7 separate regions of the Homo sapiens genome follow, and all the other regions are linked to region 1. The links come from fine-mapping of genetic effects on gene expression. A gene starts in region 1. Each other region holds a variant in brackets. All regions are shown on one strand. Distances are between the middles of the regions.

The links. PIP is the estimated chance that this variant, and not a neighbour inherited with it, causes the effect.
Region 2: its variant is fine-mapped to the expression of PRMT7 in lymphoblastoid cells (GEUVADIS, PIP 0.95).
Region 3: its variant is fine-mapped to the expression of PRMT7 in whole blood (TOPMed, PIP above 0.99).
Region 4: its variant is fine-mapped to the expression of PRMT7 in cerebellum (GTEx, PIP 0.99).
Region 5: its variant is fine-mapped to the expression of PRMT7 in fibroblasts (GENCORD, PIP 0.93).
Region 6: its variant is fine-mapped to the expression of PRMT7 in whole blood (TOPMed, PIP above 0.99). The same link has a PIP of 0.9 or more in anterior cingulate cortex, atrial appendage, coronary artery and subcutaneous fat.
Region 7: its variant is fine-mapped to the expression of PRMT7 in fibroblasts (GTEx, PIP above 0.99).

What each region holds. Positions count from the first base shown.
Region 1 is chr16:68,308,508-68,312,572 of GRCh38, reverse strand. PRMT7 (protein arginine methyltransferase 7) reads right to left here and starts at 1,554. Exons shown (of 19, transcript NM_019023.5): 1 at 1,474-1,554; 2 at 397-531. It overlaps SLC7A6OS (solute carrier family 7 member 6 opposite strand), which reads left to right and starts at 1,627. Exons shown (of 5, transcript NM_032178.3): 1 at 1,627-1,838; 2 at 1,960-2,238. The coding sequence starts at 1,647. RefSeq lists an enhancer at 1,658-2,622.
Region 2 is chr16:68,054,899-68,058,963 of GRCh38, reverse strand. It overlaps DUS2 (dihydrouridine synthase 2), which reads right to left. Exons shown (of 17, transcript NM_017803.5): 7 at 2,540-2,600. Among named protein-coding and RNA genes, the nearest start is that of NFATC3, 28 kb to the left of the region's middle. The variant T/C (reference allele first, on the strand shown) is at 2,346.
Region 3 is chr16:68,380,442-68,384,506 of GRCh38, reverse strand. All of the region lies in intron 2 of SMPD3 (sphingomyelin phosphodiesterase 3), which reads left to right. Among named protein-coding and RNA genes, the nearest start is that of SMPD3, 66 kb to the left of the region's middle. RefSeq lists enhancers at 933-1,767, 1,768-2,604, 3,971-4,065. The variant G/A (reference allele first, on the strand shown) is at 2,302.
Region 4 is chr16:68,365,614-68,369,675 of GRCh38, reverse strand. All of the region lies in intron 3 of SMPD3 (sphingomyelin phosphodiesterase 3), which reads left to right. Among named protein-coding and RNA genes, the nearest start is that of PRMT7, 57 kb to the right of the region's middle. RefSeq lists enhancers at 955-1,154, 1,581-2,133, 2,134-2,687. The variant AGCAGCGCACG/G (reference allele first, on the strand shown) is at 2,231.
Region 5 is chr16:68,519,116-68,523,180 of GRCh38, reverse strand. No RefSeq gene overlaps it. Among named protein-coding and RNA genes, the nearest start is that of ZFP90, 18 kb to the left of the region's middle. RefSeq lists enhancers at 2,067-2,116, 2,157-2,206, 2,227-2,306. The variant T/C (reference allele first, on the strand shown) is at 1,993.
Region 6 is chr16:68,353,491-68,357,551 of GRCh38, reverse strand. PRMT7 (protein arginine methyltransferase 7) reads right to left here. Exons shown (of 19, transcript NM_019023.5): 16 at 3,986-4,060; 17 at 1,669-1,829; 18 at 755-851; 19 at 1-498. The coding sequence ends at 328. Among named protein-coding and RNA genes, the nearest start is that of PRMT7, 45 kb to the right of the region's middle. RefSeq lists an enhancer at 801-960. The variant G/A (reference allele first, on the strand shown) is at 1,683.
Region 7 is chr16:67,615,300-67,619,364 of GRCh38, reverse strand. CTCF (CCCTC-binding factor) reads right to left here. Exons shown (of 12, transcript NM_006565.4): 5 at 2,487-2,620. Among named protein-coding and RNA genes, the nearest start is that of CARMIL2, 28 kb to the left of the region's middle. The variant G/A (reference allele first, on the strand shown) is at 1,979.

The DNA.
Region 1 (4,065 bases):
GAGCAGATGGTCCACTACATTCATTCAAAATGTATTTGCTAGGCGGTGGTGGCTCACACCTGTGATCCCAGCACTGTGAGGGGCCGAGACGCAAGGATATCGAGTCTGGGAGTTCCAGACCAGCCTGCGCAACATAGTGAGACCCCGTTCTCTACAAAAAATTTTTAAAAAAATTAGCCGGGCGCGGTGGCCTGTGCCTGTAGTCCCAGTTACTCCCAGCTACTCGGGAGGCTGAGGTAGGGGAATCACTTGAGCCCGGGAGGCAGAGGTTGCAGTGAGCAGAGATGGCGCCACTGAACTCCAGCCTGGGTGACAGAGTGAGACCCTGTCTTAAAAAAAAAAATATATATATATATATATATATATAAATATACATATATTAAAATTAAAAATTACCCGAGTGTAGTGGCGCGTGCCTGTAGTCCCAGCTACTCGGTAGGCCGAGGTGAGGATCGCTTGAGCCCAGGAGGTCAAGGCTGCAGTGCGCCTCGATCACACCACTGCACTCAGCCTAGGCAGCAGAGTGAGACTCTGTCTCGAAAAAATAAAATAACAAAATTTATTAAATACCTTCTATGTGCCAGGCACTATATTAGGGACTGGAGCCACCACCACAAGCTAGAGAAGACCCTTGCCCTCCAAGAGCTTAGACTCTAATGAGAGAGTAATACAAATTACAGACTACATGAATGCAAGAAATACACAGAGCGTTGTAGAAAGAGAAAACCAAGGTTACAGAAGGACTCTGAGGAAACTAGCATTTGAGATCTACAAGACAGACCGGGATAAAAGTTGGGGAAGAGTTTTTACAGGTCAGGAATCCTTACCCCAACTTTCCCAAGAAAAGGCCCTAAGGTAGAAAGAACTAGGTTGCATAAGCAAAATGTGCCAAAAGCCTGAGCGACCGAAGCACTTTTGCAGAAGCCCCCCGCTCCTCATCTCCTATCACATCTTCTGCTCAATCAAGCTGGGCCTTGTCGACTTCGGAAAGGCGTTTGGATTTTGTTCTAAAAGCACTGGGAGCCACTCAAGAGTTTTAAGCAGAAGCGTATCTACACTAGGCTTACGCTTTTACAGGACCACTCTGGTTGGCGTGTAGTGAATACACGACTCTCCAATTACTCAGAACAGTGAGTGGCAAAGACAACAGGTCTGGCAATCAGAGAACTCGTGGCCCAGTTAGGGGTGCGATGGTTGGAGCTACTGCGGTCTCTGTGGCTGAGGGGAGGCGCCAGGCACGAGTACTGCGACAGAGCCCCGCGAGTGGCAGGCACCCGGCTGCACTGCAGAGCCGGGGCCAGCCTAGAACCCCGCTCTCCTGCAGGCCCGGGTGTCCCGAGCTGCCCCACGCGGAGGAGTCCAAGTAGGCCCACGCTAGGCTCCTCTGCCGAAACCCTGGTGCCAAGGACACCATGCTCGCTGCACACAGAACCCCAAAGCGACCCCACCTTCCCAGCATACCCAGCGCCTCACCCGCCGCGGGAAACCCTCCGCTCGCCTCCGCTGCTACCACTTTTACCGCGGCCAGCACGCGGGGCGGGACCTCGCAGCGTCGAGGAGCGTGCTGGGGGGCGGGTCCTAAAGCAGAACTGGAAAGCTATCCCATCACACCCCGCGAGCTCCCACAGTGCTCAGCGGCAGCCACTATGGAGGCCGCCAGGACCGCTGTACTCCGGGTGAAGCGGAAGCGCAGTGCGGAGCCGGCGGAGGCTCTTGTGCTCGCTTGTAAACGCCTCCGGAGCGACGCGGTCGAGTCAGCGGCACAGAAGACGTCGGAGGGTTTGGAGAGAGCGGCGGAGAATAATGTCTTCCACTTGGTGGCCACTGTGTGCTCCCAGGTATTGGGCGTGGTGCAGCTGGTGTGGAGGGCATCTTCGGGTGCAGCCGGTACGAAACCCGATCCCTGACCCGCTCGCGAACTCCTGCTTACGCTGGCCTCCGTCCCCTGTTGCCCCCTAGGAGGAACCAGTCCAGCCTCTCCTGCGGGAAGTTCTGCGCCCGTCACGGGACAGCCAGCAGCGTGTCCGCCGTAATCTCCGCGCCTCGGCTCGGGAGGTCCGGCAGGAGGGCCGCTACCGGGTGCTTTCCAGCCGCCGATCCTTGGGGACCACCTCGAGCGGCCAGGAGTCCGAGTACACGCCGGGGAACCCAGAAGCCGCCGGGAACTCGGGCTTTCAGTTGTTAGACCTTGTCCACGAGGAGGGAGAACCTGAAGCCGCCTCTGCAGGCTCCTGCAAAGTGAGTATGCCCCTGAAGGTGGTCGCTGGGCTTCTCAGGATGGTAATGCAAGAAGACTGGGCCCAGTCGCAGCACAGTTTCATCTTAAGGGGATGGATGATCCATCCGGCGTGACGGCCTCATTTTACAGATTTGGTTGTTCATCCAACATGTGTTTACTACGTGCCTACGATATGCCAGGTATTTTTTTAGATTCTGTGGATACAGCAGTGAGGACCTAACATGCAGGTAGACAGAAACAGTAAACAAGTCTATTCAGTGTCAGATGATGATAAGGGATGTAAGGAGGCGGGGAGACAAAGCAGGAAGAGTGGTGCCACTTCAGTGAGAGTGTCACTGAGGAAATGACATTTGAGTGAAGACTTGCAGAAGGTGAATGGCAGGGTATTCCACATATCGAGAGGACTTCTAGGCAGAGAACCTGAAAGTAAAGAGGCCCTTAAGCCGTTTCTTTGCTCCTTGCAAGGTGCCTGGAGCCCGGTGAGCTAGAGGAGAGCAGTAAGGAATTTGAGGGGAGGATGCCTGCTAGGTACTTGCAAGGACATTGCCTTTCACCCTGACTGAGATGGGGATCACTGGAGCAAAATAGAGATAGAGCAGGTAGGAAAATTGATCAAAGAGAGGTTAAAGGAATAGTCCTGGATAGCATATCAAGTTTGAGGTAGATTTAGGTCTAGAATGCAAGTTTTCTCACATTTAATCCAGTGCTTTTCTTTATATTACATTTGCTAACTTCATTTGCAATCACTTCCAAAAAAAGTCTACTACATGCAGCAAAACTACAGAAATGGAAAATTCTCCTTGAGGCTGGGCACAGTAGCTGACGCCTAATCCTAGCACGTAGGGAGGCCCAGGCGGGAGGATCACTTGAGCCTGGGGAGGTCAAGGCTACAGTGAGCCATGATTGTGCGGCAGTGGCATTTCAGCCTAGGTGACAGAGTGAGACCCTGTCTCAAAAAAAAATAAAATACTCCCTGTAATCCCAGCGCTTTGGGAGGCTGAGGCAGGAGGGTCGCTTGAGGCCAGCCTGGGCAACAAAGCAAGACCTTGTCACTACAAAAAGGAAGAGGAAATTAGCTGGGCATTGTGGCACGCGCTTGTAGTCCTAGCTACTGGGGAGGCTGGGGCAGGAGGATCACTTAAACTCAGGAATTAGAGATTGCAGTGAGCTGTGATCAAGTCACTGCCCTCTGGTTTGAGCAACAGAGCAAGATACTGTCTCTAAAAAAAAAACCAGAAAATTCTCAACATAAAGTGTGCCCTCTCTTTTTTTTTTTTTTTTTGAGTCAGAGTCTCACTCTGTTGCCCAGGCTAGAGTGCATTGGCATGATGCTGGCTCACTGCAACCTCCAACTCCCGGGTTCAAGCAATTCTCCTACCTCAGCCTCCCAAATAGCTGGGATTACAAGCGTGAGCCACCACACCCAGCTAATTTTTGTATTTTTAGTAGAGACGGGGTTTCGCTATGTTGGCCAGTCTGGTTTTGAACTCCTGGCCTCAGTGATCCGCCCGCCTCAACCTCCCAAAGTGCTGGGATTACAGGCATGAGCCGCTGCGCCTAGCCAATATGCCCTCTCTTGATAAACATTTTTATAGAACTCATTTTAATTATTTTTGCAACTTAAAACAATTATAATTCAAAATGAATCCACAAGCAACAAGCAAATGGTACTAGTGTAATTGTTTATTGTTGTTTTTGTTTTGTTTGAGATGGAGTCTCGCCCTTGTCGCCCAGGCTGTAGTGCAGTGGCGCGATCTCGGCTCACCGCAGCCTCTGCCTCCTGGATTCAAGCAGTTCTCATGCCTCAGCCTCGCGAGTAGCTGGGA
Region 2 (4,065 bases), 250 kb after region 1:
CTGGGATTACAGGCATCGGCCACCAAGCCCAGCCTCAATCTATGCTTTTTATCTGGCTTCAATTTTTGAACCATGAGAACACAGCAGATATTCAGCTAGTATGTACATGTGTGGCATATTGATTGGTGTCTCTTCTGACTGATCAGTGCCAGTGCTGTGCCAGTTAATTATTTTCAGTAGCACCCCTGTAATGGGAATTTACTACCTATGCATAACCAGATAAAAACTTAAGTTTCCTTCCCCAGAGGAAATCAATGTTACTAGTTTCTTCTGTGTCTCTCCAAAAATCTTCCCTGAATAAACAAATAAATATATATAATCATTCCCTATCCTCCTTATATAAATGGTATATACCACCTTACCCTGCCTCCAGATCATTTTAACTCTGCTCCTCACATAATTTAGGAACACAAAGAAGTAATCAGAAAACAGCAAAACCACCGGGCACAGTGGCTCACACCTGTAATCCCTGCACTTTGGGAGGCCGAGGCAGGTGGATCACGAGGTCAGGCGTTCAAGACCAGCCTGGCTAACATGGCAAAACCCCGTCTCTACTAAAAATACAAAAAAAATTAGTTGGGTGTGGTGGCGGGCACCTGTAGTCCCAGCTACTCAGGAGGCTGAGGCAGGAGAATCGCTTGAACCCAGGAGACGGAGGTTGCAGTCAGCCGAGATTGCACTGCTACACTCCAGCCTGCACGACAAGAGTGAGACTCCATCTCAAAAAAAAAAAAAAGCCCAAAGATACCTAAAGTCCAAGTCCAGCTGATCTTTTACCAACCAAGGTTTTCGATCCTGCAGTCTGCTTCTTCTTCATCATCTCCCACTCGACAAACCTCTGGTCAAATCGGGCTACTCAGGCCTCCCTGTGTCTACCTCATATTCATCCCCAGGCCCCTGCTTATACCACACCCTCTGCTTACAGGGTCCTAAATCTCAGCCCAAGGACAATATTTCCCTATCAAATTCCAAGTTTAAAGGCTGCCTTTCCACTCCCTTCTCTGGGCTACCATAGTCTGATCTCTTCTGATACGACAATGGGAACATTTACACTGCATCCACTTTTTTTTTTTTTTTTTTTTTGAGACAGATTTTCGCTCTTGTCACCCAGGCTGCAGTGCAGTGGCATGATCTTGCTCACTGCAACCTCCGTCTCCCAGGTTCAAGCGATTCTCCTGCCTTAGCCTCCCAAGTAGCTGGGATTACAGGCACACACCACCACGCCCAGCTAATTGCTTGTAATTTTAGTAGAGACAAGGTTTCACCATGTTGGTTAGGCTGGTCTCAAACTCCTGACCTCAGGTGATCTGACCACCTCAGCCTCCCAAAGTGCTGGGATTACAGGCATGAGCCACCAGGCCTGGCCTTTTTTTTTTAAACTTTTGAAAATTTTTATAGAGACAGGGTTTCACTCTGTTGCCCAGACTCATCTCAATCTCCTGGGATCAAGTGATCCTCCTGCATCAGCCTCCCAAATTGCTAGGATTACATGTGTGGGCCACCACTCCCGGCCTCCTCTCTTTTTTTTAAATGTATGTCTCAGTTGTTTTCCCTTTTTTTTTTTTATAATCCTCCTCTGGGCTTTCTGGGATATGTGTCTCAGTCTTATTCATGAAAAGACACAGCCCTGTCCCCTCTATTTTTCTCTGTACCTTTGCATTGTTTTATTACTTGGGCATGAGTTCTCTCTCTCTCTCTCTTTCTCTCTCTCTCTCTATATATATATATGTATCTATACACATACACAATTATATACATTTATATATGTAATATATATTTATTATATATTTATTTTATATACTACATATATTATATATTTATATATTTATTATATATTTATATATGTAATATATAATATATGTAATCTATAATTATATATTATATATTTATAACATATATATTACATATATATATAAATATATATTACATATATTTATATGTATTATATAATTATATATTATATATTTATATATTTATTGTATATATTTATATGTGTAATATATAATTATAGATTACATATAATTACATATATGTGTATTATTATATTATATAGAATAAATATATATGTAATATAATATACCTATATATTATATAACATATAAATAATATATAACATTATATAATATATAACATTATATATAATATATAATAAAATATATATAATCTATGTATGAATCTATATATGTATGTGTGTGTGATATATGAGTGTGTGTGTATATGTATAAACCACTTGAGGGTAAATTACATATATCATAGCCCCTTACTCCTAAATATTTCAGTGTGTATTCTCTAAGAACAGGGATATTCTGTTACATAACCACAGAAGTTATCTTCATAAGTTTACA[T/C]TGATACAGTATATTTAGCTAATATACTATGGTCCCTATTCTAATGTTGTCAGTTCATCTAACGATATCTTTTTGAGCATTTTCCCCATCTAGTACAGAATCCAGTCCAGAGTTAGGTACTATACTTAGTTATGTCTTGTCAGCCTCTTAATCTGCATCCTATGTTTATGAGGAGTATAAAGAAACCAGTTTACCTTGGTGGAATATTGTTTTGGACAGCCCATGTTGACATCAATACCAGCCACATCATTTTCTCTGGAAAAGGATGAAGGAGTAAAGGTAATAAGTATTGAATTAGAGCAAAGAAGGTGAAATTAAAGGCATGGATGGGCCTGTGCTCATGAACCTCTTACCCTGTCCCTGACTCTATGAAACACACCAACCCCCAATGACAGAAGCTGAAAAATGGGAAAGAAACCCATCCTTAAAACGTGCACCTGCCTCATCTAAGCAGAAATCCAGAGAAAAGACATAATGTGTGCACACATCTATAAAGGGCTAGATGAAGAGGGCTTTGCTACTTTGGAGTTGTATCAGATAACTCAGATGGGCACACTGAACTCGGCTGAAATAGTAAAAGCCATTTGTCAATGCAGAAAAGTGACATGAGCCTAAGAGCCCTTTGCCAGACGACAGCTTCTGGTGGAAGTTCTAGCACTGCCTTTGTTGGCTGGGCTGCACAGATGGTTTAATCCAAACAATTCTTAGATGTCAAAAGAATCCTCACTCCGTCCTCTGGTATGTATTAGGTTGGTGCAAAAGTAATTGCGGTTTTTGCCATTGAAAGTAATGGCAAAAACCGCAATTACTTTTGCACCAACCTAAATAGTAATACATAGTTAATAGTCCGTGATCAGCAGCAATAACTGCCTGAGTTCCCACTCACTCTTTGTAATTATAACGATAGCTAACACTTACTAAGATGTCAGTATGTGCCACATGCTGCAAAGACATTTACAGGCATTATTTCATTTACCCTTCCCTATGCCAGAGGTTGGTAGCACTATTTTATAGGTGAGAAAACTAGGTTCTCATTGAGGTTAAGCAACTTATCTCAGGTCACACAGTTAACAAGTAGCAAAACCAGAATTGCAAACCAGGTCTGTCTTAACTTCAAAACCTATCACATTAACTATAGCACTCTCCTGCCTTTGTTTTTGTTCTTGAGACAGGGTCTCACTGTGTTCCCCAGGCTGGAGTCCAGTGGCGCAATGGAGGCTCACTGCAGCCTCGACCTCCTGGGCCCAAGTGATCCTTCCACGTCAGTCTTCCAAGTAGTTGGGACCACTGGCATGCACCACCATTTTTGTAGAGATGAGCTCTGCCTATGTTCCCCAGGCTTCCTATCTATGTTAATTCAGGAAGCAATATGTCTTACCTATACTTTGATACTTAAAGCTTCAGGACTCATAGTCATGGGAGTCCCTGGGAAGGAGTTTCACGAATAAATACAAAAAAACAGCTCCCCCCAATATGCATAGAGGGTCTCTGAGATCTAGGCACTGTAGGTACACATGAGTCCCAGGCCAGCCCTTGGATGCCACAAAGAGAAGGAAACTAGACACTCTTTTTTTTTTAAGACAGAGTCTCGCTTGGTCACCAGGCTGGAGTGCAATGGCGCAATCTCGGCTCACTGCAACCTCTGCCTCCCGGGTTCAAGCGATTCTTCTGCCTCAGCCTCCTGAGTAGCTGGGACTACAGGCACGCGCCACCACACCCA
Region 3 (4,065 bases), 72 kb before region 1:
CTGTTTTTAGCTTGATAGATCTGAAGGTGTCAGATCTATCAGGGGCTGGTTACCTCCCTTTCTAGTATGCAGACTGCAAGCTTGTGCAATACATGCACAGAAACACTCAGCTATCAAGAGAGAAAGGGCCTGTTTGGCCTCAGCCTAAGGTCCTCTAGTTATCCCAGGGGCCATGGGTGGACTGGCTGAGTTTTGATGAAGGGATCTTCTCTGTGAATCTTGAACCCTGAGTTCCTCTGCTGAGGCCATGTTCCTTCACACAGATGACGGCTGTCAGGGAACAGCCCCAACAGAAGTGTGGAGGCCTGGAAGGGCACAGTGGGGGACTGCTCGGGTCAGGGCCCCTGGAGCTCCAGGAGCAAGAGGAGACAGAGGAATCAGGCCACCAGATATAGCCTGCCCTTCCCTGCCTAGGTGCCTGGGCAACCTCCTGGAGTCCGCAGGCACTACTGAAGGGCCATAGGGGAGCAGTGTGGTATGATGTGTAGTTTAGAAAGACCCCACCAGCTGCCAGGTGGGCCAGAGGAGGGAGACAAGGTGGAATCTGTTACAGTGTCTAGGTTGGAGAGGGCGAGGCCTGAACTGGGATATGGCTGTGGGAATGGATCCAGGGGACTAGGGGGCAGAATTGTGAGCTGGGAAGAGGAGACAGGGTATGGAAGAGGTCCAGGGCCCAGAACTATTTGGGAGACAGAATTGTATGTGGGGAAGTGGGGGGAGGAGGAGTAATAAACTTCTAGAGGAAGATGTAGAGTTGTCAATCAAATACATGTGGTCAGAGATCAGGAGATACCTGGGCTGGCTGTCACCTGGAAACAGGTAACCCACAAGGGATCAGCCGAGAAGGGAGGGAAGAGGCAAGAGAAAGTCCAGCCCCTAGGAAGTGGGCAGGGAAGGGGCTCTGAGGGATCCTCCAAGGGCCCTGAGAAGGAGCAGTCCCATGGTGCGGGGAGCAAGAGGATGGCGCCAGGACCAAGGGGCAGCAAGTGGAGAACAGATGAGGAATGAGCCTCTTACACCTCCGGTTGGGCCTATTTCCTAAGGCCAATCTGGTTGAAACTGCATGGACTGTTTTCTCAGAGGTGCTGACCTCTGTTCTGGACGTTTTCTTTCCAAAACTTTACCAAGAAAGTCTAGTGAGACACTCTGTCTTCCTTTTCTCTTGTGGTGTGCGGGGGAGGGCAGGCAGCCTCAGGTGGGTTGCCATCCAGACCCCCAACCAGCCAGAGGGCCACTCAGCCCTCCTGGAGTTCAGGACAGATGCAGCCAGCATGCTCTGAGCAGAAGGGATGACTTGAGCCAGCTTGCTCTGCACAGTGTAGGTGGGATGCTATCCGGACAGGCTAAGCATTTAAGTTAAACAAACCTGGCTGGGCGCAGTGGCTCAAGCCTGTAATCCCAGCACTTTGGGAGGCTGAGGCGGGTGGATCACCTGGGGTCAGGAATTCGAGACCAGCCTGGCCAACATGGTGGAACCCGATCTCTACTAAAAATACAAAAAAAATTAGCTGGCACATGCCTGTAATCCCAGATACTCGGGAGGCCGAGGCAGGAGAATCGCTTGAGCCCAGTGGGGGGTGGAGGTTGCAGTGAGCAGAGATTGCACCATTGCACTCCAGCCTGGGCGACAGAGCGAGACTCCATCTCCAAAACAAAAAACAAAACAAAACAAAACAAACAAAAAAACTAACTGGGGGCAAACTAAGTGAATGCAGGGGATCCTCCCCTCAGGCCCGTGTTCCCCAGCTGCCCCTCCTGGAGGATGCCTCCTTGTCTGCAGTCAGTGATCTGGTAGTCATTATGGTCCTCAAAGGCATGGCCCTGGCAAGGCAGGATTCCCTAAGTGGCTCCACCTCCCTGAGTCCACTCTCAGTTCCCTTTCTGTCCCACCACCACACCTGTTCCTCCCTTGCTCACGGCTTGCTCCACCCAATACCCACCACCTTCCTATCTCCACACCCTCCCTCGGGGACACCCCACCCTTAACTATACACAACTAGGAGGCAAAGTCTCTGCTGCCAGAAACCCTAGGCCCTTGCCGTGCAATACCCTGAGCAGCCACTATGCTGCATCTGACTCGCCCAGTGCCCCCAGCCTCCCTGCTTAACAGCTGCTGCCCAGCCTGCCCCTGCCAGCCCTGGGTGCACTGTCAGCTAGCCACACCTGGCAGTGTCTCGCCAAGCTGGGCCTCTGGGCTTTGTCTCTATCTGAGCCCACCTTAAAGGATCCCCAGTGTTGCCTCCTGCCCCTCCCCTACAGGGCTCACTTGGACCCTGTGACCAACCCATACCCTGACCCCTG[G/A]CAGAGGTTTCCGGTGGATTTACTTCTCCACGTCTACGGATTTACTGTGCTACCTGTGTCACCAAAGCAACCGCTTCTCTGAGCAGAAAGTTTCTACTACAAATTAAAAGATTAAGACTCAGCTCCCCTGATGCTTCATGGTGCTAGAAGAACTTGGACAGGTAGGAATGGACTTTTTTAGGCCACACTGAGGAGGTGAGGAGTGAGCCTACCGCCTGGCCTGGATTCAGGACAAAGGAACATCATTATTGTTTCATTATCCTTGAGAGCAGGAAGAGTTGGATTGGATTGGAGGGTAGATCTGGCTGTATTCTTGAGAAACTGCAAGCTGTCCGTAATGAGGCTTGTTTTCAGCATCAAGTAAGTGGACTAATTACACAGCCAATCAGAAGCTGTCCTCTATTGGTCAGGATGGGATGGGTCATGCGGTGGTTATAATCAAAGGTTTTCTTCTTGCCCACACTACATGTGGGTTAGCTGGGGCCCTGCTCCATGTCTCTTCACCCTGGACTGAGGCTGACGGAGCAGCCACCATCTCCAACACTGCAGGTCAATGTGGCAGAGGGAGAGAGCTCTGGAAGGTTCCACATCTACCGTTTAAGTACTTAAGCGCAGCAATACCCGAGATCACTTTCACTCACAGCTCATTGGTCAGAACTCATCACGTGATCCCACCCAACCGCCAGAGGACCAGGAAGTGCAGTCCTACCTCTTGGCTGGACATCAGGTTCCAGGTGCTCCAGGGGCCAGAGGAAGTGAGGCAAGAGTCCTGTCTCGGGCTTGGAAGCAGAGGTAAACTAAAGGGAAAAGAGCTCTGGTCTCCCCTTATCAGATGTACAGCAGCCCTTGGTTGGGCCTGAGCTGGGGCATCCTCTCTCAAAGGGGAGGGTGTTCTGGCTGGTTCTCTTGGATCCAAGGGCTTTCATGGTGCCGTGTGCAGAGGGATGGTCTTTCATGGTGCCATGTGTAGAGCAGTGGCCTGGGGTTAGAGGTCTCCAAAAGGGTCCAGGACGGGGCCTCAACCCTCAGCAGTGAGGCCTTGCCCCAGTCCAAAAAGCCCAGCCGCCTGGGAGGGTGAGTGAAATGCTGACACCTGATTTTATTTACTCATTCTCACTCACTTGCTTCTTAAGGTCTGCATAAATTTTCCTCTAGGACTCAGTTTGTTAAATGTTCTTTGCATAGAAAACTTTAGACTGAATGTGAAATGATTCCCTTCCGAAGAATGTTAGCCCGTCTGTTCTGTTTTAGGAAGGTTTGTCGTCTTAATCTGTGTTCTCTGGTGCCTTGAAATGCCTACACATCGTGTAGTCGGCCAATCCGTTCCAGAAGGAAATGCTGTACTTGAAATGCAGCCGACACAGGGTCTGCCTAAATCCTAACATTTGTGTGGACTTGTGTTTAAAATTCTACTCCCACAGACAGTATGCTGTCATCCCCTCTTAAGTAAAGCATATTCCAAGCCTTGTTAGGCTCATGAACCATTAACATCAGCCTTCATGTCAGGGAAGTAGGGACTTGGCTGGGACAGAAATCTCAACAGCAGAACCTGAGAGAAGCAAGGCCCTCCTGGTCTCCTTCCTATGAAGGGCAGAGGTGGTGCTGAGGGCAGAGGGCCTCCTGAGGATGCAGGTGGCGCTGGTCAGCCGGGAGCAGGTGACGTGACCTGCTTTGGTGTTCCAGGATCCCTTGCTTTGGTGACTTGCAAGGCCCAGCCCAGGCACAGGCCTCAGCACCCAGGCAGGCTCAGAGCACTTGAGGTTG
Region 4 (4,062 bases), 57 kb before region 1:
TGAAGCAACTCCTGACAGATAGATCCAACCTTCCCATTTTGGCATATGGTCCGTTGGTGTTCTGTTCCCTGGATATATTTTTGTCTCGACAGCTAGAGTGACTTTCTGGGGAGGAAGGGGATGTGTTGCCAGGTCCAGGGTGGGAGGATGTGCCCCTTACTCCCACCCCTCACTCCCACCCTACTACAGGTGGCTCAGAGGCCGGGCCCTCCCCCGCCCCCTACCCCAGCCCACTTCTGCACAGATCAATCCACACATCCTGTCCCCACCTCCCTCCTCTGTGGGGCACCCTCACTGTTCCCACTGAGCTCAACAGTGTCTGCCTGGGACAGCCCCTCCTCCCAGGTTCTGTCCTGAAAGTTCTTTTCATCTTCCTCTACCTCCTGGGTCTCAAACTGTAACCTGATCTATGACATTCAAAAATTTTTTGTATTGACCAATTTTTTTTTTTTTTTTTTGAGACGGAGTTTCACTCTTGTTGTCCAGGCTGGAGTGCAGTGGCACGATCTCGGCTCACCACAACCTCTGCCTCCCGGGTTCAAGCAATTCTCCTGCCATGGCCTCCCAAGTAGCTGGGATTACAGACATGCACCACCACGCCTGGCTAATTTTTTATTTTTAGTAGAGACGGAGTTTCACCGTGTTGGTCAGGGTGATCTCAAACTCCCGACCTCAGGTGATCTGCCCACCTCGGCCTCCCAAAGTGCTGGAATTACAGGCGTGAGCCACCATACCCAGCCTTGACCAATATGTTAAAATCAAGATATTTCACAGAAAACCCGGTTTGCAGGTTCTCTCAGCAGCCCCAGGCCTGCCACATTCCGTACCCCACGCGGCTGCAGTGAGCTGGAGCCGTGGTTGGCTGCCCCGCAGTGGGGTTTCCCAGCAACCATCATGACACCTGCCTGGGAGTGAGACTCTGCAGCTTCCATTTCTGCCCTTTCTGAGGCCCCTCTGCTTTGTCCTGGCCCAGACCTCTCCCCCCAGCCCTACATCTGGCTGCCTCCAGGACACATCCCCATTCACTCGCAAACCAGACTCAGCCTCTGCCCCGGGCTGCTCCTCTTCTGTGTTCTGCCATCCTGAAGCCAGAAGGACCACCTTGGCTGCTCTGTCCTGTGCCCGACCCATCCATTCCAGGCCCCTAGCTCACTTTCCAGATGGCCCTGGGTGCACCCCACATCTCCAGCTCCCTTGGCCCAGGCCCCCTCCTCTGCATCAGCCCTGCTGTGGTTTCAGCCACCCTCCTCGTCTGAGGCCAGGTGTGACTCCTCTTATGCCCTCCACTGCCTCAGGAAGTCTGAACGTCACCTTGTACCACCTCCCGCCCCCCTGCCCCCGCCACCCTTAGCTCCAGCTCTGCCCCAGCCACAACCCCGATGAGGGGCTCCTGTACCCCTGGCCCCTGCTTGTCTTGGTCCCACACTGGGTGTGGCCACACCACCTCATGGAGCTCCCTCAGCGGCCAGCCACACAATCCTCTCTTCCCTTCATGGGCTCCTCTGCCCTCGTGCCCAGGGTCTTGTCTGTCCATCAGACAGAGCACCAGGACAGCAGAGCTGTGGTGTGCCCAGCACACGCGGATCCCAGCGCGGAGAAGTGAAGTACGTGGGGCTGCCTTGGGGACAGGCCCAGCCGGAGAGGGGCCGGGACGCTGGAGGGACTCGCTGCAGAAATCAGCGGTCCCCTCCTTCCCGGAAGGCCCTCATGGTTTCCCGTATGGGACTTCAGAGCCTTCAGGGAAATGTGGCTCTGTGAAGGAAGGGACTGGAATCCCTTTTTCCTCACCTACAATAGAGCCTTATTCTGGACACCTCTTCCGTTGACAGTCTTTGCCCGCCAGGACTCAAAGGCACAGCCTTTCGTGTGATTGCTTGTTTTTGCAAGAGAAACACAAGGCTCTGCGGCTCCCAAGGCCACGAGCCAGGAATCAATGAGGCCCAGCAAATAATCAAGTGGATCTTGGTGAGATCACACGGCAGATGAGGAGGGAGAAGCGGGGCGGGAGGGAGCAGGACCTCGTCACTCCTCCGGCCAGTGGGTTCTTGTCGTGCAGGGCCCAGTCTGAGGCCTCCCTGCGAGTGTCCAACCCTGTCCGGGACACAGCGCGGGGCAGGTGACACCAAGTGTTGGATGAGTGAGAGGCTGACGCCTTAAGACCAACAAACAGGCGGCCGGGGAGAAACCGCAAAGACACCAGCCCCTCAGAAAGCAGCGCAGAGCAGCGCAC[AGCAGCGCACG/G]ACAAACAGATCCGACTGGAAGCTGCCTCTTAGACCATGTGAGCCTGTGACCCCGGCCCACAACTCAACTTCTGGCCTCAGTGTGTTCAACGGTAAAAGCAGCATCACTTTATCATGTGCCTGAGCCGTTGTAAGGACCCAGAAAAGTAATGTCCATGCGTCGCCACCCCACCCCAGCACGAGCCCACTGGGCCTGAGATGATCCTCATGGAGGAGGAGCAGTTGTTGCCTGAAGACGGCGCCCCCGTGTGGTCTTTTATTTATTTTGAGACAGTCTCATTCTGTCGCCCAGGCCAGAGTGGTGCAATGGGGCGATCTTGGCTCACTGCAACCTCCGCCCCCCAGGTCCAAGGGATTCTCCTGCCTCAGCCTCCTGAATAGCTGGGGTTACAGGCATGCACACCCAGCTAATTTTTTTTTTTTTTTTTGAGACAGAGTCTCACTCTGTTGCCTAGGCTGGAGTGCAGTGGCATGATCTTGGCTCACTGTGACCTCCGCCTCCAAGGTTCAAGCGATTCTCCTGCCTCACCCTCCTGAATAGCTGGGATTACAGGCACATACCACCACGCCCGGCTAATTTTTGTATTTTTAGTAGAGACAGCGTTTCACCATGTTGGTCAGGCTGGTCTCAAACTCCTGACCTTGTGATCTGCCTGCCTCAACCTCCCAAAATGCTGGGATTACAGGTGTGAGCCACTGTGCCCAGCACACCCGGCTAATTTTTGTATTCTTAGTCGAGATGGGGTTTCATCATGTTGGCCAGGCTGGTCTCGAACTCCTGAACTCAGGTGATCCACTTGCCTCGGCCTCCCAAAGTACTGGGATTACAGGCGTGAGCCACCGTGCTCAGCCTCATGTGGCCTTTTGAGCATGGCGGCTTCATCAGTGTTTTGTTTTTGCAGCAGAACCATCAATGCTGCGTGATCTCACAGAGCCATTCGGGGGGCGGGGATGCTGTTAGGCTAAGGTTTGGGTCTGTCTGTGGGCAAGAAGTGAATGGTGAACCTGTGGGGCTGAACAGCCAGACGTTCGTACCCCCAGGTGCTGGGGAAGGAAGGCTGTGCATTAGGGCTGGGAAGGGGATGAAGAGCTGTAGAAAGCCAGGGGCACCTGCTGCTGAGGACGTCCAGATGGAGGAGATAATACCAGCCTGACCGACTGCAGCAGTGAAGGAAGGACGGAGCCTGCCGAGGCTGTTGGAGCAGATGGGCTGTGACGTTTGGGCTGCTGTGAGCTCCACAGATGTGGGGCACCCACCCTGCGGCCCTCTGCCCTCAGCCAACAACTGGGAGAGGCAGTGTGTCCTGCCCAGCCACCTCCCTGGAGTGCTTTTTGGGTCTGGGGTCTCCTCATCTTGGGAAACTCAGTCTGGAATGGATTTGCATGGCTTGGGGAGGGTACAGAGGCACAGGAGGGAAGGAATCCCAGGGGCAGGGGATGAGGAGCTGGTAAGCGGCCTCTCTGTGCAGGGCATCTCTGTGGCCATCCCTCACCTCTCCTGGGCTGAGCACTGACAAGGGCTCCATCTTGCCCCCACCTGGGGTAGGGCAGTTATGAATTGCCTGCAGGGTACAGTGGAGATGCTAATTTGTATTAAGCCAGCCTTTGGGATCCTGCCAGGGTCACCTGCTCCGTCTTGGGTAAAGGAGGTAAGCAGGAGGTCGGGGCAGAGGGGAGACCTGAAGAGGATGCTGCCACAGTGGGCTCAGGATGGAGCCAGGGGTGTGCAGGGGCCAGCCTAGGACACAGGTCAGGGAGCTCTCATCCAAGACGGGTGACAACGGGACCACGGCCTATAAAGCAGATGACTCACCATGCAGCC
Region 5 (4,065 bases), 210 kb before region 1:
TAAAAAAAAAAAAAAGAAAGAAAGTGGACAAAATGAGCCAAGGACAGGATAGAGAAGGAGGGCAGAGAAAGAGTGAGGGACTAGAAATTAAACAAATTTGGGCCAGGTGCAGTGGCTCATGCCTGTAATCCCAGCACTTTGGGAGGCTGAGGCGGGCAGATTGCTTGAGCCCAGGAGTTTGAGACCAGCCTGGCCAACATGGCGAAACCCTATCTCTACTAAAACTACAAAAATTAACCGGGCCTCGTGGTATGCACCTGTAGTCCCAGTTACTTGGGAGGCTGAGGCACAAGAATCACTTGGACCCGGGAGGCAGAGGTTGCAGTGAGCCGAGATCGCACCAGTGCACTCCAGCCTGGGCCACAGAGTGAGAACTTGTCTCCAAAAAAAATAAAAAATAAAAAATTAAACAAGATTGTTCTCATGCTATATTTATTGAATTATGTTTGTATCTGAATTTATTTATTTATTTGAGACGGAGTCTTGCTCTGTCGCCAGGCTGGAGTGCAGTGGTGCAATCTGAGCTCACTGCCACCTCCGCCTCCCAGGTTCAATTGATTCCTCTGTCTCAGCCTCCCGAGTAGCTGGCATTACAGGTGCCCACCACCACACCTGGCTAATTTTTGTATTTTTAGTAGAGGTGGGGTTTCACCATGTCGGCCAGGTTGGTCTCAAACTCCTGAACTCAAGTGATCCACCCACCTTGGCCTCCCAAAGCGCTGGGATTACAGGCATGAGCCATGGCACTTGGCCTTGTATCTGAATTTTTAAATAAACTTGCAAATTAATTAACTTGCAAATATTATAGCCGAGATAGTTTTTGTTCATGGCTGATGTCCTCCAACATTACAACCAGATACATGGATCCAAGAACCTGGTCTAGATTGTCCTGAGGCTGGGCCTGCCAGGGGCCCAGTTACAGAGATATTTGACAGCCAAGCAGGTTCTGTCTGTAAGAGGAACTTACCCACTTATGTGCCCACGAACTGTGTGCTGAGTTAACTGAGCTAAGCTTATGACATAAAGGCTTTATTTATTTATTTATTTATTTATTTATTTATTTATTTTGAGATGAAGTTTCACTCTTTCACCCAGGTTGGAGTGCAGTGGCGCAATCTCGGCTCACTGCAACCTCTGCCTTCTGGTTTCAAGTGATTTTCCTGCCTCAGCCTCCCGAGTAGCTGGGATTACAGGTGCCCACCACCACGCCCAGCTAATTTTTGTATTTTTAGTAGAGATGGGGGTTTCACCATGTTGGCCAGGCTGATCTCAAACTCCTGACCTCATGATCCACCCGCCTCGGCCTCCCAAAGTGTAGGACCACAGAGGCTTTGCTTTATTATAAAGAGTAATGGTTTTTGAGAAGAGCTAAGACAGCTCCTTCATTGTATAGATGAAACTAAAGCCCAGAGAAAGACACTAGTTGGAGGAGGAAGAATGTGGTATAGGAAGGAAAAGATGCCTGTCATCTGCTGGAGGGATTCTTAAGTTACATTGTAGCATTATGTCTTCTTAAATTCACCAGGTAAAAGCTTATGCTTAAAACTATTTAAATTCAAAAGTGGTAATTTAAAAAATAGAATGCTGAGTGAAGTGGCTCGAACCTTTAATCCCAGCACTTTGGGAAGCTGAGTCCGGAGGATCACATGAAGTCAGGAGTTCGAGACCAGCCTGGGCAACAAAGCAAGAGCCTGTCTCTACAAAAAATACAAAAATTAGCTGGGCATGGTAGCATGAGCCTGTGGTCTCAGCTACAGGAGGAAGGCTAAGGTGAAAGGACGGCTTGAGCCCAGTAGTTCGAGGTTTGAGGCTGCAGTGAGCTATGATTGCACCACAGCACTCTAGCCTGGGCGACAGAGTGAGACCCTGTCTCAAAATAATAATAATAATAATAATGATGATGATGATAATAAAGTGAACACATTGCTTGACTGGGCTTTGCTCATTTGCTTTGCTTTCTTCCATTCTGTTCCACTTTCTCTTCGCTCTGTT[T/C]CCAGGTCTGCTGTTGTGTGATCTCCAAGTGACTTTCCCTCTCTGGGTTGCTATTTCATCTGTACAATGCAGGAGCTGTTTTGGCTGATCCAAAACACCATTTTAATTTTTCCTACCACAACTGCTAAGTCCAGTTCAACCAGTGAAGGTGTGACCTGAGCAGAGGTGAGAAAACACGAAGGTGAAAGTAAGCTGGGTCCTTCATCTCTGCCTGGACCTTGGCCTGGGCTCACGGCCTGCCTGGGGCTGATGGCCACAGACCCCCGCCCCCACCCCAGCGTCTGATACGCCGCGCCTGGGGCGATCTTGGTACCTCCCCGCCACCGCGTGGGGACAACACATTCGCAGCTCCGCGGTTACCAAGGCGACCCAGCTGGTGTATCCTCGGTAGCCCCCTAGCGGACACTTATGGAACCTGCAGTTCTTTCCTTTACCTCGGGCGGCGTATTTCACCTGCAGCCCTGTCCAGAGAGGGGGCGGCTCTCTTACCTGGCCTCTGTATTGCTTCTCTCTACCCTGAGCCTGGCCACCCGCCCCACCTCTCCAGACATTTCGGTTTCTCCTCCAGGGACCAGGCTTCTCTGGCTTTGTCACCCAGGCACAACAGCTCTAATTACCCATCCCTTCCAGCCAGGGTCCTGGGGACTTCAGAAGGGCTGTCACCCACGGCACTTCCAAAGTCCCTCTCGAGAGTGTAAAAGTCTGGCCGGGCGCGGTGGCTCACGCCTGTAATCCCAGCACTTTGGGAGGCCGAGGTGGGTGGATTATCCAGCCTGGCCACCATGGTGAAACCCCGTCTCTACTAAAAATACAAAAATTAGCCGGGCGTAGTGGTGGGCGCTGTAATACCAGTTATTTGGGAGGCTGAGGTGGGTGGATTATCCAGCCTGGCCAACATGATGAAACCCCGTCTCTACTAAAAATGCAAAAATTAGCCAGGCGTAGTGGTGGGCGCTGTAATACCAGTTACTTGGAAGGCTGAGGCAGGAGAATCGCTTGAACCTGGGAGGCGGAGGCTGCAGTGAGCCGAGATCATGCCACTGCACTCCAACCTGGGCGACAGAAAGACTCTGTCTCAAAACAAAAAAAAACAAAGAAGAGAGAGTGCAATTTATTATTATTTTTTTCTGAGACAGAGTCTCGCTCTGTCGCCCAGGCTGGAGTGCAGTGGCACTATCTTGGCTCACTGCAACTTCCGCCTCCCGGGTTCAAGTGATTCTCCTGCCTCAGCCTCCAGAGTAGCTGGGCTACAGGGGTGCACCACCAGGCCTGGCTAATTTTTGTATTTTTAGTAGAGCTGGAGTTTCACCATATTGGCCAGGCTGATCTTGAACTCCTGACCTCAAGTGATCCACCTGCCTCGGCCTCCCAAAGTGCTGGGATTACAGGCGTGAGCCACTGTGCCTGGCAATGAGTGTAAAAATCTTATGTGATGTGGAGTAAAATACCCTTCCCTCGGCCAACCCCCTGTCCACACCCCACCCCCAGCAACCCTTGACTCAGACTCTGGCTTTGGGATCCACTTTTCCTTACAGGCCTCGTGCATCTGTGTGATGGAATCCCATAGGCAGCACAGCCCGGCCGGAATCCAGGGAGCCACTAGTGCATGGGGTGGGGCAGCATCACCAGAACTGGGCATACAGCCTCTGTTGGGAGACAGGCAAGCATACAGACAAGCCAACCCAATACAGGACTGGAGGTGGGCAGTCACAAGGTTGGTGGCGCAGTGTGCTGGGAGCACCACATGGAAGGGGGAGGACCACAGCCTGAGCTGGGCAGAAAGGCTTCCTGGAGGAAGTGATGCTTGAGCCTTGAAGGATGAGTAGGCGCTGGCCTGGGGTAGAGATCTCAGTGATGGCTTGAGGGGTGGGGGAGGACTTCTCTTCAGAGTCTACCTTCCTGAGTGTCACTCCTCATCAGGGCCCCTCCTTGCCCTTTTCCTCTTCTCACCCTGTCCCCATTCCCTGGGCAACCTTCCCCAGCCCAGCAAATGTAACCAGCATCTCCTTGTTACACGTGATCCTTTTCTCCTCGTCACAGGCAGTCCCTGGATGTGCCCTGGACTTGCTTGCC
Region 6 (4,061 bases), 45 kb before region 1:
CAAGCTCCCTGTGCTTCCACTCCCTTCCCAGCTGGGGAGAGATGTCTCTGTGTTGGAGCATTCTCAGCACCTCAGAAGCACAAGCAGGGGGGTCTTCCCAGCCCCTCCAGGGCTCCAAATTCAGTCACCCTCTCATGCTTCCTGCCACAGCTGGAGCCAGAGGCCAGCAGTGCAAAGATGCAACAAGATGCAACACGGCGCAGTCTTTCCCATCCCTGAGGCCGAGCAGCTCCCAGAGAGGAGAGGAGGGCCTTCAGCCTTCCCCGCTAGAAAGCCATGAGCCACTCAGAACCCCAGCCCTCAGGCCACTTTATTGCTCAAGAGTGGTCAGTCTGGGGTATCTGCATGCCTGAACTCCATGATGATGTCGCCTGTGTCGGGGTGAAACTCCACTGCATAGCTGACAGTCCGTGGGCCACCCAGCAGTGCTCTGGGATCTGGGGCAGGGCTGAAGAAGTAGACGGCCTGCTTGCAGTGGGGGTTCCAGCAGCAGCCCCCCTGTAGGAAGAAGAGCAGGAAGATGGTGAGGGCTCCCTGGCACCTGAGCCTCCTTCCTAGCCAGCCTCCAGCCCAGGCAGCTCGCAGCAGAGAGAAGCTGCTCAGGGGCCAGATGGCCCAGGACCACTGAGGGGTCATCATCTGGCCCGAAGAACTTGTGACAGAAACACCCAGAGCATGGGGGCAGGGAGGCCTCCCCAGGCGGCGCCTGCTCTCAGGGTCTGCACGCACACTGGGCCCGGTGCGCAGGCACTACCTCGGGGTCTGCAGGCTCCAGGAGGCCAGTGCTGAGCGTGCACTCCGGGGTCAGGTGGTACTCCATCCATAGCACCGCTGCGTGGCTCTGCCCGGGCCTGTCAAGGAGAGGGGGGCCCAGCAGAAGTAGTCACACAAGAGGCAGCGGGGGAACAGCTGCAGCTCCTGCGGCTTTCCAGAAACCTGTGGTCTTCCCCACTTCCTTCCTGCCCTGCCGGGAGTTCCTAGTGCTGCAGTTACATAAACGTTCCTCAGAAAAACCCCAGCCAGAAGAGCCGCAGCCAAGCCCCCACCTGAGCCAACCCGAGCCCTGCAGCCGGGCCACACATGGGGCAGGGCCGGTGTGGCTGCAGGGTCTGGGGGAGCTTGAGGCACAGCCTGGCACTGAAGGCCGGAAGGCCCCTCTGATGCCCCAGACAGCAACCCTGGGAGCTCAGGTGATGGCGCCCGCCCTGCCTGGCTGCCTGCCCCGAGTTGGGAGGTGCTTCCAGGAGAAGTCACTCCTCGGGCGAGGGTGGGGTGAGGGCCGGAGCAGGACAGGGCTGCCCGTCCCTGGACGCAAGCAGCACTTGCTGACCCTGACCTGCTTCAGCTCCCAGGAGGGTTCAGGAAAATGGTGCATCGGTGACCACAGGAAGTAAGCTCCCATCTTCCTGAGCTGTGATCCAACAAGGGAGCCTCAGCTGTAGAGGGGGAGCAGAGCCCTTCCTGGCTCCTCCACCAGTGGCACACACAGGACCGTGGGAACCACCACACGCGCAGGGCCACTCTGACAGGGAAGGGCAAGGTTGTGGGGAGGACGAATACCCCCTCCACGTGTCAGCGTCTCCCAGGCCAGCTGTGCTCACCACGGGGGTGAGAACTCCAAGGGCAAGCAGCAGCCCCTCCCTGCCCCCCAGCCCTCTCTGCACCCACCTTCTGAGCTCCAC[G/A]GTGCCCTCGGCACACAGGGGCTGCAGGGGCACCGGCTGCTGGAAGTCAAAGGTCAGGATCTGCCAGGGCTCGGAGAGGCTGCGGCATGGGTACTCCCACAGCGGGTGGGGCTCAGCTTCCCTGCTCTCCCTGAAGTCCAGGGCACGCTGCGAACAGAAGGGGGCCTGGGGGCTGCAGAGACAGGCCGGCAGCTAGACAGAGGTACCGCTCCCCGGCTTGGCTCCCACTGACTGCAGTCACAAGGGGTGTGCGTTCTCCCATAAAGATGCCGAGCGCCCAGCAGACCAGCGGCGCCCCCTCTCTGCCACTTCTCTCTCATCAGTGGCTCCCCAGGCACCGCTGGCTCTGAGCCTCGCTCTCCGGATTTTTAAGATGGGGTGGTGCTGCCTGTCTCAAGCCTTCTGAGGACCACATATCTACATCACTGGTGAGAACACCCAGCACCTAGAAACTTGGTGACCACCACAGCTGTGTGGCCCCGACAGGTGGGCCCCGGGCCACAGGGAGGGATAAATGCGTGACAGTACAGCCCCGGTGCCTGGCGGCAGGCTGGGGGCACCTGCATCCAGGAGGGATGCAGAAAGCTACCTGGAGGAGGGGAGGTGACGGTCAAATGGGAGCCGGCAGGAGAAGGGCCAGAGGGGGCCTTGAGGATAGAGCTAAGTCAGGAGAGCAGGCCAGGGCACCCAGGCCAGCCGGGCCACTCTGCAGGTGTGGTGTGGGGAGCCAGCTAGGGCATTCCTGCAGTGGGGATGTGGCCAGACTCAGATCTACAAGTTCATGTGGGCTCCGTGTGGAGGACGGCCAGAGCAGGAGGGGCTCAAACCAGGACGGCAGCAGTCAGGGGACAGCCTGGGTCGGAGGCTCACCAGGAGCACGAAGACCAATGGCAGGGGATGGGAGGACTTGCCAGGGAGGATGCCCGGGGCCCTGGGCCTGGCTGGTCGTGTGAAGTGGCGCCAGGTCTAAGACAGGGCACTGGAAGGGCCAGGCTAAGGGTGGGGAAGGGCAGGTGGATTTGGAAAGCATAGAAGTAAAAATGCCTGGCACCCCACTGTGGGATACCCACCACTCTCGGCCATCTGCCTTAGCACACGAGAGACAGACACTGGCCCAGGACCAGAGTAGCAGAACCGTATCAGCAAGAGGGGACAGGGACAGCCAGGGTGGGCAGGCCATGAGCAGGGGCCCAGAGGAGGCGTAGAGCGCATGGGTCCAGAGCACGCAGGGCTCAGCACGAAGGAGATTTCTAAAAGCATCGAACAGTCAATGGTCTGCTGTGAGGGGCAGATAAGATACAAACTGAAAATATCCACAAGGTTTAATTTACTTAAAAAAGTGTTCACACACAGGCAATCCATGTTCACTATGGGAAAATGAGAGCAGAAAGGTGAGCAGAAGCAGAAAAGCCCCACCTCCCGATGCATAGCTGCTGCTGCGGGGCCACCGCTGCTTCCCGCTCCTCTGGTGTCCATGAGATTTCTTTTTTTGAGACAAGGTCTTGCTCTGTCACCCAGCCTGGAGGCAGTGGCACAAACGCAGCTCACTGCAGCCTCGACCTCCCAGGCTAAAGCCATCCTCCCACCTCAGCCTCCTGAGTAGCTGGGAATACAGGTGTGCACTACCATGCCTGGCTAATTTTTTGTTATTTTTTGTCGAGACAGGGTCTTGCTATATTGCCCAAGCTGGTCTCAAACGTCTGGGCTCAAGCAATCCACCAGCCTCAGGTTCCCAGAGTGCTGGGATGACAAGCAGGAGCCACGTGCATTTCCTTAATACACAGCACGGCCCATGCTCCTCACCCTGCCCCTCTCATGTGGATGGAACACGACTCTCAGCTTCAGTCCTCATGAATCCAAGGACCACTGGCGCTGTCAGGACAGCCCATGGTTCTGGAGAACGTAGGCCCAGTTGCTAACCCCTACCATGTAAATAACCTGTGGGAATCTCCTCAGGTACCCCTCCCGGGAATGGAGCCCCCACCATGGAAATGGCTGCCTAAGAAGGTTCCCAGATGGCCTCTGGAAAGTCAGCCCCACTAGAAAAGAAGCTGTGGGCACTGGCAGGGGCAGTTGCAATGACAGGACGTGCAGGCCCAGTGGAGATTCTGACACAGGGTGACAGCACGGAGCCAAGAACAGGGCTGGTACCAAGCAATGCTCATGTTGAACCACACAAAATGGCAGCACCTGACCTCACTGCCCCCAACAGAAGAGCCTGTGCTGCCCAAGCTGGGACCCTGTGAGAGGCCTGCGATACAGGAGCAGGTCGGGGGTACTATGCAGAGTGTGGCCCTGCCTACCTTAATCATGTCGTCCATGATGTGCACGTCGAAGCCTTCGCAGTCACCACAGGGGCTCCGGATCCGCCACAGGTCC
Region 7 (4,065 bases), 690 kb after region 1:
TCCCAGGGTCAAGCAATTCTCCTGCCTCAGCCTCCCGAGTAGCTGAGACTACAGGCGCACGCCACCAGGCCTGGCTAACTTCTGTATTTTTAGTAGAGACGGGGTTTCACCACGTTGGCCCGGCTGGTCTCAAACTCTTGATCTCAGGTGACCAACCCGCCTCAGCTTCCCAAAGTGCTGGGATTACAGGCGTGAGCTACCGCGCCTGGCCCCACTCATAAGTGTTACACACCAAGTTTTCACACACATAAGTCGATAACTATCCTAACAGCGTTACTAATTCTTTTCCTTCAAGATTTCCCTATTTAACCTGTTAATTTCAATATGTACCAGAACCTACTCTGTTCCAATGAGCTATCTATTCCTACTGCAATATCACACTGGCTTCATTTACTATAGTTTTACAAAATCCAATGGCACAAGCCCCTCATTCTATTTTCAAATTTTTCTTAGCCATTCATATTTATTCTTCCAGTTGAAAGTTAGAATCAACTTGTAATGTTTCTTCATTTATTCAGGTCCTCTGGAAAAGTTACTGAGGTTTTCTTCATGTACATTTCATAGATATTTTTTGTTGTTCAGTTTATCCCTCAGTTATTTTATTGCTATTAGAATCCATTTCATACCTTCCTATCACTATTGACGTTACTGATTTCTGTATGCTTATCTTATATCCGGCCAGTGAACTGAACTCTTATTGCTCTAAGTTTTTGTTCTGATACTCTTAGATTTTCTCTGTAAGCAAATCTCTCTGCAAGAAATAACAGTTTTATCTTTCCATTAATAATTCATTTCTTGCTTTATTCGATTAGCTAGGATTTCCAGTACAAAGCTGAAACAGTAACATTAAGAATGAATATCTTGTCATATTCCAGATTTTAATGGAAATACTTTCAATGTTTCAGAATTAATTAGGATGAGTTTATTATACATTTCTGGTATATATGCTGTTTAAAATTTTTTTGAGGGGGAGTCTCACTCATCACCCAGGCTGGAGTGCAGTGGTGCGATCTTGCCTCAATGCAACCTTCACCTCCCAGGTTCAAGTGATTCTCCTGCCTCAGGCTCCCGAGTCGCTGAGACTACAGGCGCATGCTGCCATGCCCAGCTAATTTTTGTATTTTTAGTACAGATGGTGTTTCACCATGTTGGCCACACTGGTCAACTCCTGACCTCAGGTGATCTGCCCACCTCAACCTCCCAAAGTACTGGGATTACAGGCGTGAGCCACCATGCCCAGCCTAAACACATTATATTAAAGAAGTTTTCTCCTATACGTAACTTGCTAGGACATTAAACAGTAATTAATGATTACTGAATTTTAGCTCCCATCCCATCTACAGAAATAATATGGTTTTTCTTCAATCCTTCAATGTAATATACATCAGCAATTTCCCAATGATAAACAATCTTTGTGTTTCAGATATATTCAGTATCACTTATTTTTAGAACGTATTACTAAATTAGGTTGGCTCATTGGCTAATAATTTCATTTAGAATTTTTGCTTCTCTCTGAGGGTAAGTTTTCTTTTTGGTAGTTTTCTGACCCAGTTTTGGTAACAGTGTAGCTTCAAATAATAAAATTGATAAACCTACCATTTTAAAATGCTCTGGGTACAGTTTTTTCTTCAAAGTTTGACAGAATTTGCCTGTATTAACATGTGAAACTGGTACTCTTTTTTAAGACGGAGTTTCACTCTTGTTGCCCAGGCTGGACTGCAATGGCACGATCTCGGCTCACTGCAACCTCCACCTCCCGGGTTCAAGTGATTCTCCTGCCTCAGCCTCCCAAGTAGCTGGGATTACAGGCATGCACCACCACGCCCAGCTAATATTTATTTATTTATTTATTATTATTTTTTGAGATGGAGGGAGTCTCGCTCTGTCGCCCAGGCTGGAGTGCAGTGGCGTGATTTCAGCTCACTGCAAGCTCTGCCTCTGGGGTTCACGCCATTCTCCTGCCTCAGCCTCCCGAGTA[G/A]CTGGGACTATAGGTGCCTGCCACCACACCCAGCTAATTTTTTGTATTTTTAGTAGAGACAGGGTTTCACCGTTTTAGCCAGGATGGTCTCAATCTCCTGACCTTGTGATCCACCCACCTCAGCCTCCCAAACTGCTGGGATTATAGGCTGTGAGCCACCAGGCCCAGCCTAAATTTTTTATTTTTTAGTACAGATCGGGTTTCTCCATGTTGGTCAAGCTGGTCTCCAACTCCCGACCTCAGGTGATCCGCCCACCTCAGCCTCCCAAAGTGCTGGGATTATAGGCGTGAGCCACCGCACCCAGCCAGAAACTTGACTCTTTTTAACAAGTAAATCTTTCACAATCATCATAAGTTTTTTGGGGGAGCGGTGTTGTGTGGGAGTGTTAATAATTTACTAACATTTTTCTACCTCATCTTAAGTCCGTTTGGGTAGTAGTTATAGCTTTGTATTGAAATAAATCATGGTCTGCCTAAGAGAGATACCAACAAAAAGCTGAACACTCACTTCTACACTGGCGTAATCGCACATGGAACACTTGAATGGCTTCTCGTGGGTGTGTTTGTAACGACGATGCCGAACCAATTCTCCACTGGTCACAAAGGCCATGTCGCAGTCTGGGCACTTGTGAGGACGAGTACCTAGAGAAAGGATGGAGTAACAGGAAGAGCAAGATCAAGGGCACAGTTAATGACAGAGTTCAATGTGTGGCACAGAACTGCTATGAGACTGGAACCCTATTCATCCCATCAACTGCAGTAGCTTGAAAGCAGATACAAAAGTCAGCTCCGAAAACTATGGGAGGGCCTGGATGAATTTATACTAACACCAGGATATTATAACACATACCAAATTAGTTTCTCTTAATTACCCATCTGAATCCGCTGCCTTTGAATACAATAAAAACCTTCTTATTCCTATTTTGTGAATATCCTGGTCATTATGGATTAAAAGTTAATAGAGACCGGGCTTGGTGGCTCATGCCTCTAATCCCAGAACTCTGGGAGGCTAAGAGTTTGAGACCAGCCTGGGCAACATAGCAAGATCCTGTCTCTCAAATCTCGTTGTATTATGACTATAAATATAGGGCCATTGGGCTGTCCATATTCTGCAACTTTCTTTTAAAAACACAAACATATAACTTGTTTTCCACATGTATCTGTCTTGATAAGGAATTTCAGAGGCTTATCACAGGCTTTACATAGTATTTCCTTTTATGTGATTTAAACAAATGATTTTCAAACATCCATGTCTAATATGCTGTGATCATTCTGAATGTCAATTCATCCAATATAAAACATGAATAATATACTCTCTACATTTCTTGTCTTTCACTGAAGGAATCTTAGAGACAAAACTGAGAGCACAATGCAGTGCTAGTTTCACAGACTAGTGACCATCTGTAATTGTGGGCAGCAGGTAAGGGGTGACAGCAAGGTAGTATCAAACACTAAAACCAAAGGAAGGCTGCCTTTGAGGATACAATTAGGAAGAGCCACAATGTAATGAATAGAACCAGCCATCTGCAGAAATGATTCTCTTTGAGAATGAAGAGAATGCTGGAGAGGAAGAGTGACTGGAGTATAATAAAAACTAAGCAATTCCAAGGAATGTTCATTTGTTCATTCGATTCTTTAGAACCACTATGGATCTAACGGTAAAGCACAGAGTTCTTCCTGTGAAAGTGTATAGTCTGGTGGTATGGATAAGAAGTAAAACAATTAACAAGAGAAGAAAAGTGGCATCCAATTTTCTTTTCGTTTTTTGTTTTTGAGCCAGGGTCTTCCTCTGTTACCCAGTGGGAGTGCAGTGATAGGATCAAGGCTCACTGCAGCCTTGACTTCCCAGGCTCAAGTGATCCTCCTACTTCAGCCTCTCCAGTAGCTGAGACTACAGGCTTGCACCACCATGCCTGGCTAATTTTTTCTATTTTGTAGAGATGGAGTCTTGCCACGTTGCCCAGGCTTGTCTCAAACTCCTGGGCTCAAGCAATCCTCCGGCCTCGGCCTCACAAAGTCCTGAGATTACAGGTTGTGAGCCACCATGCTTGGTCTTCTTTTAGAACAAAGTAAGCTAAAAAATAAAT